Homo sapiens: one gene and its partners. The protein of the gene in region 2 interacts with the protein of the main gene of each other region in a pairwise test. Each region holds a gene or a part of one and is shown on either strand. Other genes may lie near its edges.

What was found.
Region 1: the proteins of RAB4A (region 2) and SOD2 interact in a two-hybrid assay, tested with the Homo sapiens proteins (one large-scale study listed by IntAct).
Region 3: the proteins of RAB4A (region 2) and IDH3A interact in a two-hybrid assay, tested with the Homo sapiens proteins (one large-scale study listed by BioGRID and IntAct).
Region 4: the proteins of RAB4A (region 2) and RABGAP1 interact in a two-hybrid assay, tested with the Homo sapiens proteins (one large-scale study listed by BioGRID and IntAct).
Region 5: the proteins of RAB4A (region 2) and PTTG1IP interact in a two-hybrid assay, tested with the Homo sapiens proteins (one large-scale study listed by BioGRID and IntAct).

What each region holds. Positions count from the first base shown.
Region 1 is NC_000006.12:159,669,234-159,672,752, forward strand, and holds part of SOD2 (superoxide dismutase [Mn], mitochondrial isoform A precursor), read right to left. Parts: 3' UTR 1-3,519. UniProt on the Homo sapiens protein: Destroys superoxide anion radicals which are normally produced within the cells and which are toxic to biological systems.
Region 2 is NC_000001.11:229,291,596-229,295,114, reverse strand, and holds part of RAB4A (ras-related protein Rab-4A), read right to left. Parts: intron 1-3,519. UniProt on the Homo sapiens protein: The small GTPases Rab are key regulators of intracellular membrane trafficking, from the formation of transport vesicles to their fusion with membranes.
Region 3 is NC_000015.10:78,152,356-78,155,874, reverse strand, and holds part of IDH3A (isocitrate dehydrogenase [NAD] subunit alpha, mitochondrial precursor), read right to left. Parts: intron 663-3,519; coding exon 600-662; intron 1-599. UniProt on the Homo sapiens protein: Catalytic subunit of the enzyme which catalyzes the decarboxylation of isocitrate (ICT) into alpha-ketoglutarate.
Region 4 is NC_000009.12:122,947,511-122,951,029, reverse strand, and holds part of RABGAP1 (rab GTPase-activating protein 1), read right to left. Parts: intron 1-3,519. UniProt on the Homo sapiens protein: May act as a GTPase-activating protein of RAB6A. May play a role in microtubule nucleation by centrosome. May participate in a RAB6A-mediated pathway involved in the metaphase-anaphase transition.
Region 5 is NC_000021.9:44,849,687-44,853,205, forward strand, and holds part of PTTG1IP (pituitary tumor-transforming gene 1 protein-interacting protein isoform 1 precursor), read right to left. Parts: intron 1,942-3,519; coding exon 1,895-1,941; coding exon of another isoform or gene 1,681-1,894; 3' UTR 1-1,680. UniProt on the Homo sapiens protein: May facilitate PTTG1 nuclear translocation.

The DNA of each region.
Region 1 (3,519 bases), on a different chromosome or scaffold from region 2:
GTGAATGTTCCATGTGCTGATGAAAAGAACGTGTGTTCTGCAGCTATTAGAGTGTTCTGCACCTATTAGAATGTTCTGTAAATGTCAGGTCCATTTGGTGTAAAGTGCAATTTAAATCCAATATTTATTGGTTTTATGTCTAGAAAATCTGTCCAATGCTGAGAGTAGAGTGAAGTCCTCAACTACTATTGTATTAGAGTCTATTTCTCCCTTTAAATCTAATAATATTTGCTTTATATCTGGGTCATCCAGTGTGGGGTACATATATATTTATAATGATAATATCCTCAGGCCTGGCACAGTGGCTCATGCCTATAATCCCAGCACCTTAGGAGGCCAAAGCAGGAGGACTGCTTTGAGACCCAGAGTTTGAGACTAGCCAGGCAACATAGCATAACCCCATCTCTACAAAAAAATTTTCTTAATAAAAAAATATGATTATATCTTGCATGAATTGATCCTTGTTTCATTACATAATGACTTTTCTTTTTACAGTTTTTGACTTAAAGTCTATTTTATCTCATGTAAGTATAGTTATTTCTGCTCTTTTTTGGCTTCCATTTGTATGCAATATCTTTCTCCATACCTTCACTTTTGGCCTGTCTTTACAGGTGAGGTTTCTTGTAGGCAGCATACAGTCGAGTCATGATGGTGGTTTTTAATCCATTCAGTCAATCTATATCTTTTAAGTGGGAGAATTTAATCCATTTACATTCAAAGTTATCATCAATAGAGGTGCAGACTTTTTAAACAAATCTCTTCCCAGGAGAATCACTTGTTTTTTGAGAGACAGGATCTCTTTCACCCAGACTGGAGTGCAGTGTAGACTCACACTGTAATCACAGCTCACTGTAGACTCCAACTCATGACCTCAAGGGATCCTCCCAACTCAGCCTCTCAAGTAGCTGGGACTATAGGGATGTGCCAGCATGCCCAGCTAAATTTTAACTTTCTGTAGAGATGGGGTCTTGCTTTGTTGCCCAGGCTGGTCTCAAACTCCTGGACTCAAGAGATCCTCCTGCGTTGGCCTCCCAAAGCACAGAGATTACAAGTATAGGCCACCACACTCAGCCTTGATAGGTGAAGACTTACTTGTGTCATTTTTTAAATTGTTTTCTGGTAAAAATGCTAACAGTAACTAGGAGCTAAAAGATTCATTTGTTTTTTTCCTCCAGGCATCCACTCTGAGCCCCAGTGAAGAATGGTGGCAGCTGTAAGCACTACCAGCAAGTATACCCTACTGGTTGGAGAACTTTGTTTAAAGGATATAAGTTGTGTGCCTTCTGTAAATGACGATTTAATAATATCAATATCCATTTATCCTCTATAATCATAGTCAATACACAGAGAAAACCAAAAAATGCCAGACTTGGGTTGGGTTCCAAGATGGCCGAATAGGAACAGCTCCAGTCTACAGCTCCCAGCGTGAGCGACGCAGAAGACAGGTGATTTCTGCACTTCCAACTGAGGTACCAGGTTCATCTCACTGGGGCTTGTTGGACAGTGGGTGTAGGACGGTGGGTGCAGCCCACTGAGCATGAGCTGAAGCAGGGCAAGGCATGGCCTCACCCGGGAAGGCAAGGGGTCAGGGAATTCCCTTTCCTAGCCAAGGGAAGCTGTGACAGACGGCACCTGGAAAATTGGGTCACTCCCACCCTAATACTGCGTTTTTCCAATGGTCTTAGCAAACGGCACACCAGGAGATTATATCCTGTGCCTAGCTCGGAGGGTCCCACGCCCATGGAGCCTTGCTCATTGCTAGCACAGCAGTCTGAGATCGAACTGCAAGGTGGCAGTGAGGCTAGGGGAGGGGAGCCCACCATTGCTGAGGCTTCAGTAGGTAAATAAAGCAGCCGGGAAGCTCGAACTAGGTGGAGCCCACTGCAGCTCAAGGAGGCCTGCCTGCCTGCCTCTGTAGACTCCACCTCTGGGGGCATGGCATAGCCGAACAAAAGGCAGCAGAAATCTCTGCAGACTTCAATGTCCCTGTCTGACAGCTTTGAAGAGACCAGTGGTTCTCCCAGCACAGAGTTTGAGATCTGAGAACGGAGAGACTGCCTCCTCAAGTGAGTCCCTGACCCCCGAGTAGCCTAACTGGGAGGCACCCCCAAGTAGGGGCAGACTGACACCCCACATGGCCGGGTACCCCTCTGAGATGAAGCTTCCAGAGGAATGATCAGGCAGCAACATTTGCTGTTCAGCAATATTCGCTGTTCTACAGCCTCCACTGTGATACCCAGGCAAACAGGGTCTGGCGTGGACGTCCAGCAAACTCCAACAGACCTGCAGCTGGCGGTCCTGACTGTTAGAAGGAAAACTAACAAACAGAAAGGACATCCACACCAAAACCCCATCTGCACATCACCATCACCAAAGACCAAAGGTAGATAAAACCACAAAGATGGGGAAAAAACAGAGCAGAAAAGCTGAAAATTCTAAAAATCAGAGCGCCTCTCCCCCTCCAAAGGAACATAGCTCCTTGCCAGCAACAGAACAAAGCTGGACGGAGAATGACTTTGACGAGTTGAGAGAAGAAGGCTTCAGATGATCAAACTTCTCCAAGCTAAAAGAGGAAGTTCGAACCCATCACAAAGAACCTAAAAACCTTGAAAAAAGATTAGACAAATGGCTAACTAGAATAACCAGCATAGAGAAGTCCTTAAATGACCTGATGGAGCTGAAAACCATGGCATGAGAACTACGTGACGAATGCACAAGCTTCAGTAGCCAATTCGATCAACTGGAAGAAAGGTTATCAGTGATTGAAGATCAGATGAATGAAATGAAGTGAGAAGAGAAGTTAAGAGAAAAAAGAGTAAAAAGAAACGAACAAAGCTTCCAAGAAATATGGGACTATGTGAAAAGACCAAATCTACGTCTGATTGGTGTACCTGAAAGTGACGGGGAGAATGGAACCAAGCTGGAAAACACTCTGCAGGATATTATCCAGGAGAACTTCCCCAATCTAGCAAGGGAGGACAACATTCAAATTCAGGAAATACAGAGAACGCCACAAAGATACTCCTCGAGAAGAGCAACTCCAAGACACATAATTGTCAGATTCACCAAAGTTGAAATGAAGGAAAAAATGTTAAGGGCAGCCAGAGAGAAAGGTCGGGTTACCCACAAAGGGAAGCCCATCAGACTAACAGCTGATCTCTCAGCAGAAACTCTACAAGCCAGAAGAGAGTGGGGGTCAATATTCAACGTTCTTGAAGAAAAGAATTTTCAACCCAGAATTTCATATCCAGCCAAACTAAGCTTCATAAGTGAAGGAGAAATAAAATCCTTTACAAACAAGCAAATGCTGAGAGATTTTGTCACCACCAGGCCTGCCTTACAAGAGCTCCTGAAGGAAGCACTAAACATGGAATGGAACAACCAGTATCAGCCACTGCAAAAACATGCCAAATTGTAAAGACCATTGAGGCTAGGAAGAAACTGCATCAACTAACGAGCAAAATAACCAGTGAACATCCTAGTGACAGGATCAAATTCACACATAACAATATTAACCTT
Region 2 (3,519 bases):
GGCAGTACACACCTGTAATCCCAGCTACTCAGGAGGCTGAGACAGAAGGACTGTTTGATCCCAGGAATTTGAGGTGACGGTGAGCGATCATGCCACTGCACTCCAGCCCAGGCAACAGAAAGAAAAAAAAAAAAAAGCCAGGAGTTCAGGATTTTTCCTATTAGCAAAATAAAAATAAATTGGCTCTGGTACCGCCCATCTTAAAACACAAAACAGAAATATGCTGCACCATCTTTTCAGTTACTGTCCCACTGTCTGCTCTTCTCCACATCCAACTGTCTTTTTTGAGACAGAGTTTCGCTCGTTACCCAGGCTAGAGTGCAATGGCGCGATCTCAGCTCTCTGCAACCTCTGCCTCCCAGGTTCAAGCAATTCTCCTGCCTCAGCCTCCTGAGTAGCTGCACCCGCCACCACGCCTGGCTAATTTTTGTATTTTTAGTACAGACGGGGTTTCCCCATGTTAGCCAGGCTGGTCTCGAACTCTTGACCTCGGATGATCCACCCGCCTCGGCCTCCCAAAGTGCTGGGATTACAGGCGTGAGCCACCACGCGTGGCCCCACATCCAACTTTCTGAAAGAGCTGTCTTTACCTGCAGCTTCCTCTTCTTCACCGCCAACCTAGTGTCCATCTCTGCTACTCCCCAAAAGCCTGTCAAGGTCCCCACCCTCTCTGCAACCGAAGCTGGAGTGGGCATTTCTGTCCTCACTCACTCGCGCAGCCTCTGCGCCCTGCACTCTGCTAGTCTTCCTCCCGCTCACCAGCCACTTCTCTGGCTCTGGTCATTCTTCTGAATCTGCCCTGCTGGGATTGCGATTCCCCAGAGCTGGGTCCTGGGCTCTCTTAACATTCGACTCAAATTTTGTCTCCAGCTCAGATCCAAGTGCTGCCTCCATATCTCCATGAGACTGCCTGATAAACATGTCAAACTTAACATCTGCACAGCAGGACTCTTTTTGGTCCCACCCTCCAGGCCCGTCCTGGCCTAGGAAGAGGCATCACCACGCACCCTGTTTCTAAAGCAAATCAGCTCCACATTCATCCTCAATTCCTGTGCACCTCCACATTCACTCCGCCAGCCTAGTGCAGTCTCCTACACTACACAAATCCTGTGTCTGCCCACGCTGCTGTCCCTGCTGCCATGTGTGGCCCACAGTCCATTCTTCAGAGCAGCCCAACTCATCAAGGCCCAGGACAGGACATCTCCGTCACTGTACCTGTCCCTTTGGCCCCATTCTCTTCCCTGCTCCCAGCCCCTGCCACTCCCGTCTGGGCTCGTCACACCGCTGGCTTTCCTTGTCCCTTGGGTCTCATTAACTCTATCTCCTCAGCAACGTTCCCCAAGCATCCCCATCCAGTGGACCCCCTCTATCTCAGCGTGCTGTCTCCTGGGTGGCACCATCCCACTTGGTGGGATGCTCTTTCTGTCTCTGTCTCTGTGTTGGCTGCCTGCCTCCCCTCCATGGGGCAGGGCTCTGCTGTCTCACTCACCAGAGGATCCCAGTGCCTAGCACAGGGCCTGGACCACTGCTAGCTAGACATTCCCAGAACTTAACTGTGGCCTAATTAAATTAAAAAATATATATTTGGTCTTCGTCCCAGGTTCCTGGCACAGAGGCCCAAACCCCTGTGATTTCCTTAGTGATAAAGGTGTCTTTTGTAAGCCAAGGAGATAACTGTGGGAAGAGTAGCAGGCTAGAGAGCCTTGGGATCGGGGCTGTGGCCGTGGGAGCCCTCACCGAGTGAGGAGAGTGCTGGAACTTATAGCCTCACCTCAGCCCTCTGGGGAGGAAAGAGGAGCTGGAGATTGAGTCAATCATCAATGGATAATGTTTTAATCAATCGTGCCTTTGTAATAAAACCTCCACAAAAAAACCAAAAGGATGGGGGTCAGAGAGCTCCTGGGCTGGTGGTGGCATGGAGGTGCTGGGAGGTGGCCCATCCCCATACCTCGTCTCCTAAGCATCTCCTCCACCAGGCTGTGCCTGAATTGACACCTATCTAACAAACCAGTAAATGCCAGGAAAAATGTTTTTCCTGAGTTGTGTGAATCATTCTAACAAATTCTCCAACCTGATGGGGATGTGAGGGATGGAGGGTGTGGGAACTGCCAGATCTGTATTTGGCCAAGAAGTGCAGGAAGCCTGGGCACTCCAGTTGTGACTGGTGTCTGAAGCGGGGGTGGCAGTCTAGGTCTCCTTAGCCTGGAGGGTCCCCTTTAACTCTGGGTAGTGTCAAAAGTGAATTGAAGTGTTGGACACCCAGCTGGTGTCAGAGAATCCGACTGGCTGGTGTGAAGAAAAACCCCATAGACTTGATGTCAGAAAAAAAAAGACACCAGAGGAATGAACTATCCTTGGAGAACAAAGAAACCCGTGCAGCTTGCAACAAACAAACAAACAAAATTACTAATTATTACTTTGCTGCTTGGCAAAGAAGAGCTACTTTTAAATGTACTTTTTAGCTCTTAGTCAGGAAGCTTCAAGGTCTTCATGTAGCTTGAAGCTTTTCCTCTCTGCCTTGAGACTGTTAGCAAGAGGCACACGCTTTAAGGACTGGTGGCAGGTAGAGGTGCAGAGTGGACTGTTTGCTCTTCACCCCACAGCCTCCTAAGGCAGGGGGAAAGGCCTCGCTTGTTCACATCTATTAAGAGGCAGCGCCTTTCTATTCTTGCTCAGCAGGCACCTAGCTTCTAGAGGAAGAGGGAACTACGAGTTCTCTTCAAGATAAGCTGTATCACATCTACTTCTTAAAATTTTACTTTCAAATTTATTTTACAACACTGTCTTGACAAATAGTTTCTTATACAAATTACTCCAGTATACAAATATACACATTTAAGAATACTACTTTGAGGTGTTAAATTTTCTTTTTTTTTTCCTTTTATTTATTTATTATTATTATACTTTAAGTTTTAGGGTACCTGTGCACAATGTGCAGGTTACATATGTATGTATACATGTGCCATGCTGGTGTGCTGCAACCGCTAACTCGTCATCTAGCATTAGGTATATCTCCCATTGCTATCCCTCCCCCCTCCCCCCACCCCACAACAGTCCCCAGAGTGTGATGTTCCCCTTCCTGTGTCCATGTGTTCTCATTATTCAATTCCCACCTATGAGTGAGAATATGCAGTGTTTGGTTTTTTGTTCTTGCGATAGTTTACTGAGAATGATGATTTCCAATTTCATCCATGTCCCTACAAAGGACACGAACTCATCATTTTTTATGGCTGCATAGTATTCCATGGTGTATATGTGCCACATTTTCTTACAAAAGTAATTTAACCAATATAATACATGTGGATAGTTTTAAAGTGAAATGTCACGAAAAGTCTCTAAATTAAACACAGCCATCTCCTGCCTCACTCCTCTCTGGGAGCCCTACTCTCCACAAGCGAGGTGAGTTCTCTCTTTCTGGTAACTGGGTTTCCTTTAATTAAGTCATTAAAAGAGCACATACTGCGCCCCTGTGTGCTAGACACTATTCTGGGCACAGGGGAAACAAACAGAAAACTCAAA
Region 3 (3,519 bases), on a different chromosome or scaffold from region 2:
CCACAGTCTTAGAATGTTCCAAAAATGTGGTATCAGCTTTTAAAGCACAGAATTCTGATGCTGGGAATTCTAAAAGCAGCAGATTTAATGAACAATAGATGATCTACTACTGTGATAGTCTACAAAGCCTATATAAGGCAAGTATAAGCCTACAAGGCTTATAGATGTTCGAGGCATTCCTAATTGGCACTCAATCTACTGGGTTTAGGGAAGCCCATAAAATAAAAATGCAAAGCAGGTTTTGAAGCTTCTCAACAATTTTCTCTCAACTTGTACTAGTTTTGAAAAAAGCTGTCTCACCAAAATGAGATTGTGAAATAAAATAACAGGCTCAAGGGTACTTTCTATTTTTAACAAGGCTCCCTCAAGATATTAATGTGACAAACTTACATAGCCAGCTGTAAGATAATTCTTTCAAATGCGCAAGTAACCTAACAGATTTGTGCATGTCAGCCAGTAATTTCAACATACATTATAAATATGGCCAATTTTCCCAAATTCTAAATGAATGGAGATAAAATGCTATATAATAAATATGTTAGAGCATCTTTCTTGAGAAACTTCTAAAAGGAAAAAATAAAAGACATAATTATACTCACACCACCAGTAAAACCTCTGGTCACCTGTTTTGGGTTGTGGAATGCCCCCAGCAGCCGAGAGACCTATATTAATATCAACAGAGAAATATCACACACAGAATTAAACCACATACAGTAAACAAGAGCGAGGAAGTCCTGATGGATGGTAATGCTGCAACTTGGCACAGATATATTCAGTAGCTTCCCAGGAATACAAATCTCATGTATTAGCTCAATGTGGCAAGCTATCTCAGATTTGAAAGCCTAAATACTCAGATTTTTACTTTAGATTGAGTACTGTATATTTTCAAAGTCAATTTAACGAATATAAGTTGTCAAATAAAAGATGTTGAAGGTAGAATAAAACTACTTTTTCAGCTCAACATACAGATTCTTCTCAGATGAGTGGATCATTTTGTGCCAACATTCTTGACCATTCGGTCAATTTAGGGGTAACATATATTCTAAGAAAATTACCATTAATTTTAGAGCCAGGATGTTCCTCATGAAATCCAGAGCACAACTCACTTATTTCTTGTTGTTGTTTTAGGCTTTTTGAGATGGGGTCTCCCTAGGTTGCCCAGGATGGAGTGCAGTGACTATTCAAAGGCACAATCATAACTCACTGCAGTCTCCAACTCCTGGGCTCAAGTGACCCTCTTGCCTCAGCCTCCTGAGTAGGTGGGATTACAGGTGTGCACCACGACACCTGGCAACTTGCTTATTTCATAAGCGGAGATGCTGGTCCCAAAGAAAAGCATTTGCCTAAGGTCACACAGCGAATAATTGGCAAAATGGAAACCCACATACAGGTCTTCTGACTCCTGGTCCAGTGCTCCTTCAATTATACATTATATCTATTCTGTGAATATTAAGAAATTACACTTTATAGTAAAATCTAAGAAAGTTTATTTAATACCATCTGATGCCCATGCCATACAGAATAAAGATTTTAAATAAATTACTGCTTCTTCTGATAATATAGGTAATGTGGTCATTACTGTCAGTTTGCTGGGACTAGGAAAAGATACAAAATATAAAATAAAAGTTACCCAGTAATCCCACCACACCAAGATATTACCACTGGTACGTGTTTTTTTTTTTTTTTCTCTCTCCAATTAACATCATATGCCAGAAATATAAATTTTAAAGGTTTATTATAAACTTTAATAACTTAGTCCTTGAGAACTGGTACAAAGTCATACTACATTATTATAAACAATATAAAAAAAGAAACTGGGTACATAGACCAAAGGTATTAAAATGCATTAAATTTTTTTTTTTTTGAGACAGAGTTTCACTCTTGTTGCCCAGGCTGGAGTGCAATGGTGCAATCTCGGCTCACTGCAACCACCACCTCCTGGGTTTGCCTCAGCCTCCTGAAAGTAGCTGGGATTACAGGGATGCACCACCATGCCCGGCTAATCTTGTTGTATTTTTAGTAGAGACAGGGTTTCTCCATGTTGGCCCGGCTGGTCTCAAACTCCTGACCTCAGGTGATCCACCTGCCTTGGACACCCAAAGTGCTGGGATTACAGGCATGAGCCACCACACCCGGCTGCATTAAATTTTTTAAAAAGTAACTTTTTCTCCTGCTAGATACATGAGCAAAGACACATTTGTTATATCCTATCTTGATGTTTTTTTCTGGGGTCTGAACCTTTGCTGAAATATTTATTGGTAACAACCAACAGCCAAGAAAGGTATGAATGAATTTTATTCTCTAATCTTCTGGTATCTATAGTCATGACTCTGCATTGAAAATAAGACTGGGCCAAATCCAAAAGAATGCCAAAACCATTGGCCAAAATGTTAATCCTAGGGCATGATTCATCCACCAGCGAGTGGGCTATTGGAAGGGAGGCCATTTAAAGGCTACTTTGTGACAAGAAAATTGACATGTGTCCTTTCTCCTCTCCCTGAACAAAAAAGAAGGAAAAGACATTCACACAAAACTCATGTCCTTGTGACAGAAGACCCAACCAACCAGGCTGTGCAACAAAGTGAGACCCTGTCTCTACAAAATTAGCCAGGTATGGTGGTGCACACCAATGGTCTCAGCTACATGGGAGGCTAAGTCGGCTTGAGCTCAGGACTGCTTGAGCCCAGGAGCTTGAGGCTTCTGTGAGCTATGATTATGCCACTGCACTCCAGCCTAGGTAATGGACAAAAAAAAGAAAAAAAGAAAGAAAGAATGAAAAAGACCCGACTCAAACAACTGATTTTAAAATGTAAACCCATCCTACCTGCATATGCTGGGGGCAGCAATGTAAACCCAGGAGTGTAAGGATTTGTGTTTTGTTCACTGTTGTATCTAGTGTCTAGAACAGTCCCTGGCTCATAGAAGGTATTCAATAATTTAAAAAAAAACAAAACAACAATCAAACAAAACTGAGTCCAGCCTCAGTCACATCTCTATCTGAAGAGTTTCCAAGCCAACAAGTAGCCTTAATACTTGCAATGATCTTCTTTAAGGACCAGTCTTTTCCATGTTTGTCATCTCTCTTGCATGATCTTAGAATAAAGCAGTACTGCACCTAAGTCATCACAATGACCCAGAACTTTAAGTAAAATAAAATTTTCCAAAGCACCATTTAAAGGTTACTTCGTGACAAGCAGAGCATAAAAGTGACATGAGGCCGGATGCGGTGGCTCACGCCTGTAATCCCAGCACTTTGGGAGGCTGAGGCAGGCAAATCACCTGAGGTCAGGAGTTCAAGACCAGCCTGACTAACATGGAGAAACCCTGTCTCTACTAAAAATACAAAATTAGCCAGGCGTGGTGGCACATGCCTGTAATCCCAGCTATTCAGGAGGCTGAGGGAGGAGAATCACTTGAACCCAGGAGGCAGAGGTTGCGGTGAGCCAAGATCGCGCCATTGCACTCTAGCCTGGGTGACAAGAGCAAAACTCCATCTCAAAAAAAAAAAAAAAAAAAAGG
Region 4 (3,519 bases), on a different chromosome or scaffold from region 2:
AATACTACAAAATTTCACAACCCAAAGAATTATTTCTTACTTCCACCTGCTGAAGTAAATGAAAATGCTGGCCATTTTCTTATTCTGAAACTCTTATCCTTTTGCATCCATTTCCTACCACTATCTTTTCTTAGTTCTGATTTAGGTTCCTTTTCTTCTATTTTTAAAATCACATCATCGTCCTTCTTTTCACTGGCTATCTCATTAGCTAACATGGTTACAGCTTTCTATTGTATGCTGATAACACTAGCACTGTCTTTTCTCTTGAATTCCACATGGGTATTTGTGTTATATTTTCTTTTTCTTCTATTCAGTATCAAAGAGTCTGATATGTGCCAGACACCAGGTATAGAATTATGGTGAGGAATAAAAGACACTCCTTACCTTTGACAGGCTTACAGTGGTAGAGAAAACAGACCAGTAAACAGGTAATTATAATATAGTGCTTGTTATAACAGAGGTGTGTAAAGGGTGTTATGAGAATACACAGCAGGGCTCTACTATATGCGTCCTATGGTCATCTCAAAACCAATTCCTTGCAAAACTAAACCATTTAATCCCCACGCGTCAGCAGATTCTTCTTTCTAGATTCTCTATCCTGGTTAACAGCCACAGATTCAAAACAACATCAAAAAAAAAAAAAAAAAAAAAAGAAAGAAAAAGAAAAAGAAAAAAAAGACACCAAACCAAAACAAATCTTGACTCCTCCTTTTCTCACCCTCCCTTGGAATAATGGATTTTAGTTCTAAAACATATCCCAAATATATTCCTTCTTCACTATCCCTCATGTCATTGACTTGTATTTTATTCTCTTTCAACCTGGCTATAACAAGTGTTTCATTCTAGACTCTTCCTAGTCATTGATTATTTAGCCCCCAAAGTTAATTTCTAAAACTTAGATCTGATCATATATCCCATACCTCCCCTTTCCTCAAAACTATTTATTGCTCCTGACTGAAAATACAATAAAATCCAAAATCCTTGTATTATTTAGTTCTTCAAAATCTGGAGCCAATTTCCATTCTAGTCTTATCTTCTTCTGTCACACCATACTATATACACAAATATGTCATGCATTTTAATGCTTTCAAGCCTTTTCATATGCTGCTTGCTCAGCTGGGAATGTGTTTTTGTTTCCGCAATCAGCCTTTCTCCACCAACAGCAACCTAGTGGATACAATCAAGTATTCAACCTCCCCCTTTCCCTTCTGCAGTGTTATTGTCTTCTAGGGCTCCTCAGGCTTTTTGTTTTTTAGTTCATCACAGAATTATAGCATTTACCACACAGTAAAATAATATCAACACTTTTTTTTTTTCCTTTTTTTTTTTTTTTTTTGAGACAGAGTCTTGCTTTGTCACCCAGGCTGGATGCAGTGGTATGATCTTGGCTCACTGCAACCTCTGCCTCCAGAGTTCAAGCGATTCTCCTGCCTCAGCCTCCTGAATAGCTGGGATTACAGGCATGCACCACCACGCCCAGCTAATTTTTGTTTTTGTTTTGTTATTGTTGTTTTTGAGATGGAGTTTCACTCTTGTTGCCCAGGTTGGAGTGCAATGGCATGATCTCAGCTCACTGTAACCTCCGCCTCCCAGGTTCAAGCGATTTTCCTGCCTCAGGCTCCCAAGTAGCTGGGAATTACAGGTGCCCGCCACCACGCCTGGCTAATTTTTATATTTTTAGCACAGACGGGGTTTCGCCATGTTGGCCAGGCTGGTCTCAAACTCCTGACCTCGGGTAATCCACCCACCTAGGCCTCCCAAAGTGCTGGGATTACAGGTGTGAGCCACCGCAGCCAGCCGTAATTTTTGTATTTTTAGTAGAGATGAAGTTTCACCATGTTGACCAAGCTGGTCTCAAACTCCTGACCTCAAATGATCCACCTGCCTCAGCCTCCCCAAGTGCTGGGATTACAAGCGTGAGCCACCGCACCTAGCCCAACGCTTCTTTTCTACTCCGCTATATTGATCAATCCATTCATTCCAGAAGCAATTACTGAGTATAAACCACCATGTCAAATGCTGGGAGTATAACGGGCACAAAGAGTCCCCCAAACTACTTGTGGACAGGGGTCTTATGTTTTACTCGTAGTAATTTCATTTCCTTACTTACGGGCAGTGTTCAATAAATTTGGTTGGTTGAATATACTTCATGGCTGTTTAACTAGTAGGGTCTAAGTAATATGAGGAAAACAAATGACAAACATGCTACTCTACATGCATGTACTGGGGATGTGGACATGGATGAAGACTAAACTCTTCATCAAATCCCCAACTGTCATGATCAAAAAACAGTTAACACAGTCACAAAAAATATACCTTGGGTTCCCTTTGGACCAAACACTAACCACTTCCCTCCCAATCCCCATCATTTTTGTTGCTCAACCAGTGAAAAAATGGGTACAGCTTTAGGGAATCTTAAGCAAGATGACTAAATCATCTTGCTAAATCAAAAGAGAAAACAATACTTATTACTTCTTGAGTGTCAATTATATGCCCAACATGGTACGAACAAGTTTTACTTGCATTATTACTAATCTTCACACCTTGCCAGATGGGTATTAAGTTCATATGACAGACAAACTAAGGCTTGGGCAGGCTGAGTAACTCGCTTAAGTTCAGAGAGAAAATTGTGGAACTTGATCCAAACCCAAGTATCTAGGTGTCTCTGTTCTTTTCTGGATTGCATCTCTCTCCCTCTCGATGTCCCTATCTCCATCCTCTCCCAATTCCAATCCATCCTCTATGCTGCTCCCAGTTGTACCCTTCTAAAACACAAATCTGGTGAGTTTACTCTCTGTTTAGAAAAAGAACAAGACAGGATGCAACAAAAGAATCAAGTCTGAAAGATGCTGTAGCAGGATAATTCCTGTGGGTTTGTAGCTCTTTAAAATTAAACAAGCAGGGTACAAAGAAGCTATAAAAAATCACATTGCATTAGTTTCAGTTTGTGTGTGTGTGTGTGTGTGTGTGTGTGTGTGTGTGTGTGTTTTCCTGGCTCTGAACTTTGTTTCACTGCACTGGTTTTCACATGAATTTCACACAGCCTATCCCTGGAAAGGGTGGGACAAATCAAACAAAACTCAATGGAACACCATCCCTTCTTTATAAAAATAAATTCCTTTCCACCACTACTAACTGCTAAACAATAGATGTCTTTGTTTTCATTCTGACTCTGAATTTTGAGACTATTTCTTTGAATTATTTTAGTGAGCTAAGAGAATCATAATAATTTAAGCTTTCTGATTAATTTCAGGTTACGTTAAAAAACCAAAACCAAAACCAAAAGAATCAAAACAATCATCTTGGGCCTACCTGCACTTAAAGGCAAGAAAAACTAGCTTATCTAAAACTCACGCTTAGGCAAATTTGAGCCTACCGTAACTGTGACAATTTACTTCTTTAAACTATTAAATCACTTTTAGTTCAATTCTACATTAACTAAAAAAGATATCGGAATTAAACAAATACAGGAAATTGTAAAACAAAATAAAACTTTAAAACATCTTTTTTATAAGTTGT
Region 5 (3,519 bases), on a different chromosome or scaffold from region 2:
TCTTAGTGTATTTCAGAAAAAAGCAGATGGACGAAGACCGACCTTACAGACGTGGGTTTCTACACTGAGCGCAAGGGCTGACTACGCTGTATTTCACAACCGAGCCCTAGCGCCAGCTCAGCACCCTACGCTCAGGAAGCGGATTTTGCACACACACTACTGCATTCATACAGAGTTCACTGAAGTCTATTACCAAGTGTCTTTTATGAATAAACAATACAAAGTCCAATTTTGATGGCTGCTATAAAATACTTAGGAATCTCTGCAATACTTTACTACAAATACAAATGCCCAAGAGGTCAGGGAAATCAGCCTGAAGAACTGGGTACAGGTTCTATTCTTTGTGGAAATTTCAGCCTAGGAATGTTATTCCCGGTACAGATGTACACAGTCAAAAAGGCTTATCGAGCTGTTTGACGAGTTCTTGAAGTGTTCTGGATCAGTGATCTGCCTGTGAACTTTAGTTCACGCTGAAGACAGTCTTCTCAGTTTTCATGACTGTGAAGTGTGAAAATGGAACGCATCCTTGATCTTAGGTGCTGCTGACCTACTTTCCCAAAGCAAAATGTTTTAAAATTCAAGGCAATCTGGAACAGGGACTATTTCCAAACTTCCTTAGGCAGCACTTTTCAGTGACTTCCCCGCACGCTGCTTTCCCTGCCACGAAGCGCTTGGTCTGCTTACTAAAGCCACGTATCCTGATTTTACAGAAACGTGGGCAGGTCCAGCAGTGCCACTGGAGAGCTCCCAGAGAAGCCCACTCAGAAGGAAGTGGTCAGACCACCCTCGAGCCAGAGCGGCTGGAAGCTGGACTGGTCCCATGAGGCAGAAGGAGCACCAGCGCCTGCTGGGTGGTGTGGGGAGAGCCCTCAGCTGACTCTGGACACACCTGCTTCCGGGGCACGTGGCCCAGAGCCGGGCCTGTGGACGGGCCTTTCTTTCTTCTTGGGGTGGACCCCGTCCCCACGATCCCTAAATGGCCACCCCCCAGACAGCCCAACAGGCAGCGAGAGGCCTGCAGGCACTGAGGATGCCAACAGGGCTGGAGAGAGCTGCAGCGTCCTGCCCCGTCCTCCCCACACCGCTGGCACACGAGCAGTCAACTGGTGCTGCTGAGGCAGGCCAAACACCACATTTATAATTCAAGCTTCCAAGGGAAAAAGATTCTCATGTTCTAGTAAAGATACAAATTTTAAAAATTGTCCAAAAAGGGCCTGAATTTTTATATGAAGGTTTTCTGGTGAAATCTTTTAAGCAGGGAGGAAAATCCAATAAATTTTTTTAAAAAGGTTTAGCTATTCCCCAATGCTATTTAATACAATTGAGGTTAGGACGTTAAGTCCTTATCAGACTGTGTACTGGAGCCCCGTGTCATCAGCAAAAGCCGTGTGAGTCAACAGGTGTGAAGACTCAAGATGCGCACACAGACGCTGTCCGTGGTTTTATGGGGAATGATGAGGGCTGGTCAGTTCTCCTCATGACAAAAGTCAAACCGACTTCCCTGTGTTGCGTGTGAAGCTTGTTAGTGGACAGAGAGAAACGCAGGGTTCTGCCCTGGGAGAATGACAGCCACAGCGCTGGGTGCCGTCAGGCGGCTTCGTGTGCAGTTAGCGTTTCACAAACTGAGAAGAGTATAAAAAAGCCCAAACCCCAAAGATTTCTTATTTCAAGTGACTAAATCTAGAAACAGAGATGAACAGGGAATAGAAGGTCACCAGTCTGCAAGACGAGAGGACTGTCCTTCAGGGGCAGCTCTCCGGCCGCCTGTCCTGGAAGGCTGGCAGGTTCACTGGCCAAGGTCAGGAGACCGCAATGGCCACGTGGTCTCCCGGCTGGGCTGGGCTGCGGAGCGTGCACCTCACAGGAAGCGTCGGGACTGATGTGCTGGAGCGCTTTAGTTGTTTTCAAATCTAGCATACGGGTTTTCTTCTTTAAACAGGCCTGAAACAAAATAAACTTGAATCATAACTTCATTCATTCAACCAGAAACAAAATCTTAGAAAGCCATACAAACCAAGCTTTATAAGAAGATTTACTGAGGCTATAGCAACAACGGGCATTGTAAGCAGGCTCTCATACAGTGCTTAACCTTTTTTGAAGTCAAACCACTTTAAACTTTAAAACTGAAATAAAATTTACTAGAAACAAGAACTCTAACAGATCCTAAGAGATAAGCACTTACTTCCTGATGCTCGGCGAAGAAAAGAAATTTAAGGCAAGTATTTCTTTCCACAGTGGTTGGCTAGTTCCACAGTGGATGGCTACTATTAAACAAAATAACCTTACTTTGTGCTTATAGCTGCTCTTAAACCTTTGGAATTAAGGCTACAGAAAGAACTAAGATGACCATCAATCTAACTCTCGAGTACTCTGACAAAACTGGGATAAAATGTGTATTTAATCATAAGAGTAAACCTGTGCTACTTACCCAAAGACCAGGAGTTTTCCCTTCACACTGCAGAAACACACACACATACACACACTCTCTCTCCCTTTATTTTTTATTTTTTTTTGAGACAGAGTTTTGCTCTTGTTGCCCAGGATAGAGTGCAATGGCGCAGTCTCGGCTCACTGCAATCTCCGCCTCCTGGGTTCAAGGAATTCTCCTGCCTCAGCCTCCGGGTAGCTAGGACTGCAGGCACCCACCACCATACTTGGCTAATTTTTGTATTTTTAGTAGAGACGGGGTTTCACCATGTTGGTCAGGCTGGTCTCGAACTCCCAACCTCAGGTGATCCACCACCTTGGTCTCCCAAAGTGTTGGGATTACAGGCGTGAGCCACCGTGCCTGGCCTCTCTCTCCCTTTAACAATCTGTATTGTACACTAAAATTATCTGCAGCGATTACAACAAAGCTACTCACTGCATGTATTCTGGGGGCTGGGTGGAAGAGGCGGCGGGGAAGCAGAGGGATGGTAAGGAAGGGCCTAGCCATGTTTCTTTCTTGCCTGTCAAGGAGGGCCACAGGCATCAGGCTTTGGGAGTGAGGCTCAAAGTCGGTTTTGGGAAAGAGTCATCAGATACTAGCAAGGAGGCTGGTTAAGTTCTTATTGAAAAACTCGCTCCTGAGTCTACTTCCAGTTTAGAGGGAAAACCAAAACCAAAAGAAGGGTTTTTGCGTGCGTGCTGGTATTTTATATAACTGCACCAGGTGGACTCACATGCTTTCTCGCACTCTCCCATCAGGAATTCCTAGGAATTCTTCTAACTAGCCGAGGCTTTCCAAAGCACAGGCCATTCAATGGCTTTATTACAAACTGGCACAAAAAGCTCATTTCATCAATGCAATTAAAGGGCCAAATTAACCACCAAAATGGCAAGTGCAAGTCAATCAGGGCCCTGACACAGAAGACACCACTCCAAGAGCCTGGCCGGCCACCCACAGCCTCACACCCGCTGGGAGTCAGGGCACAGTAAAGGTCGAGCAACTTAAACACAGCTTGTGCTTGGTGATAACAGGTGCTGGGCAGTGTGTGCGTGTGTGCGCGTGTGCGTGTGTGTGTATCCACCTTGTCTTTT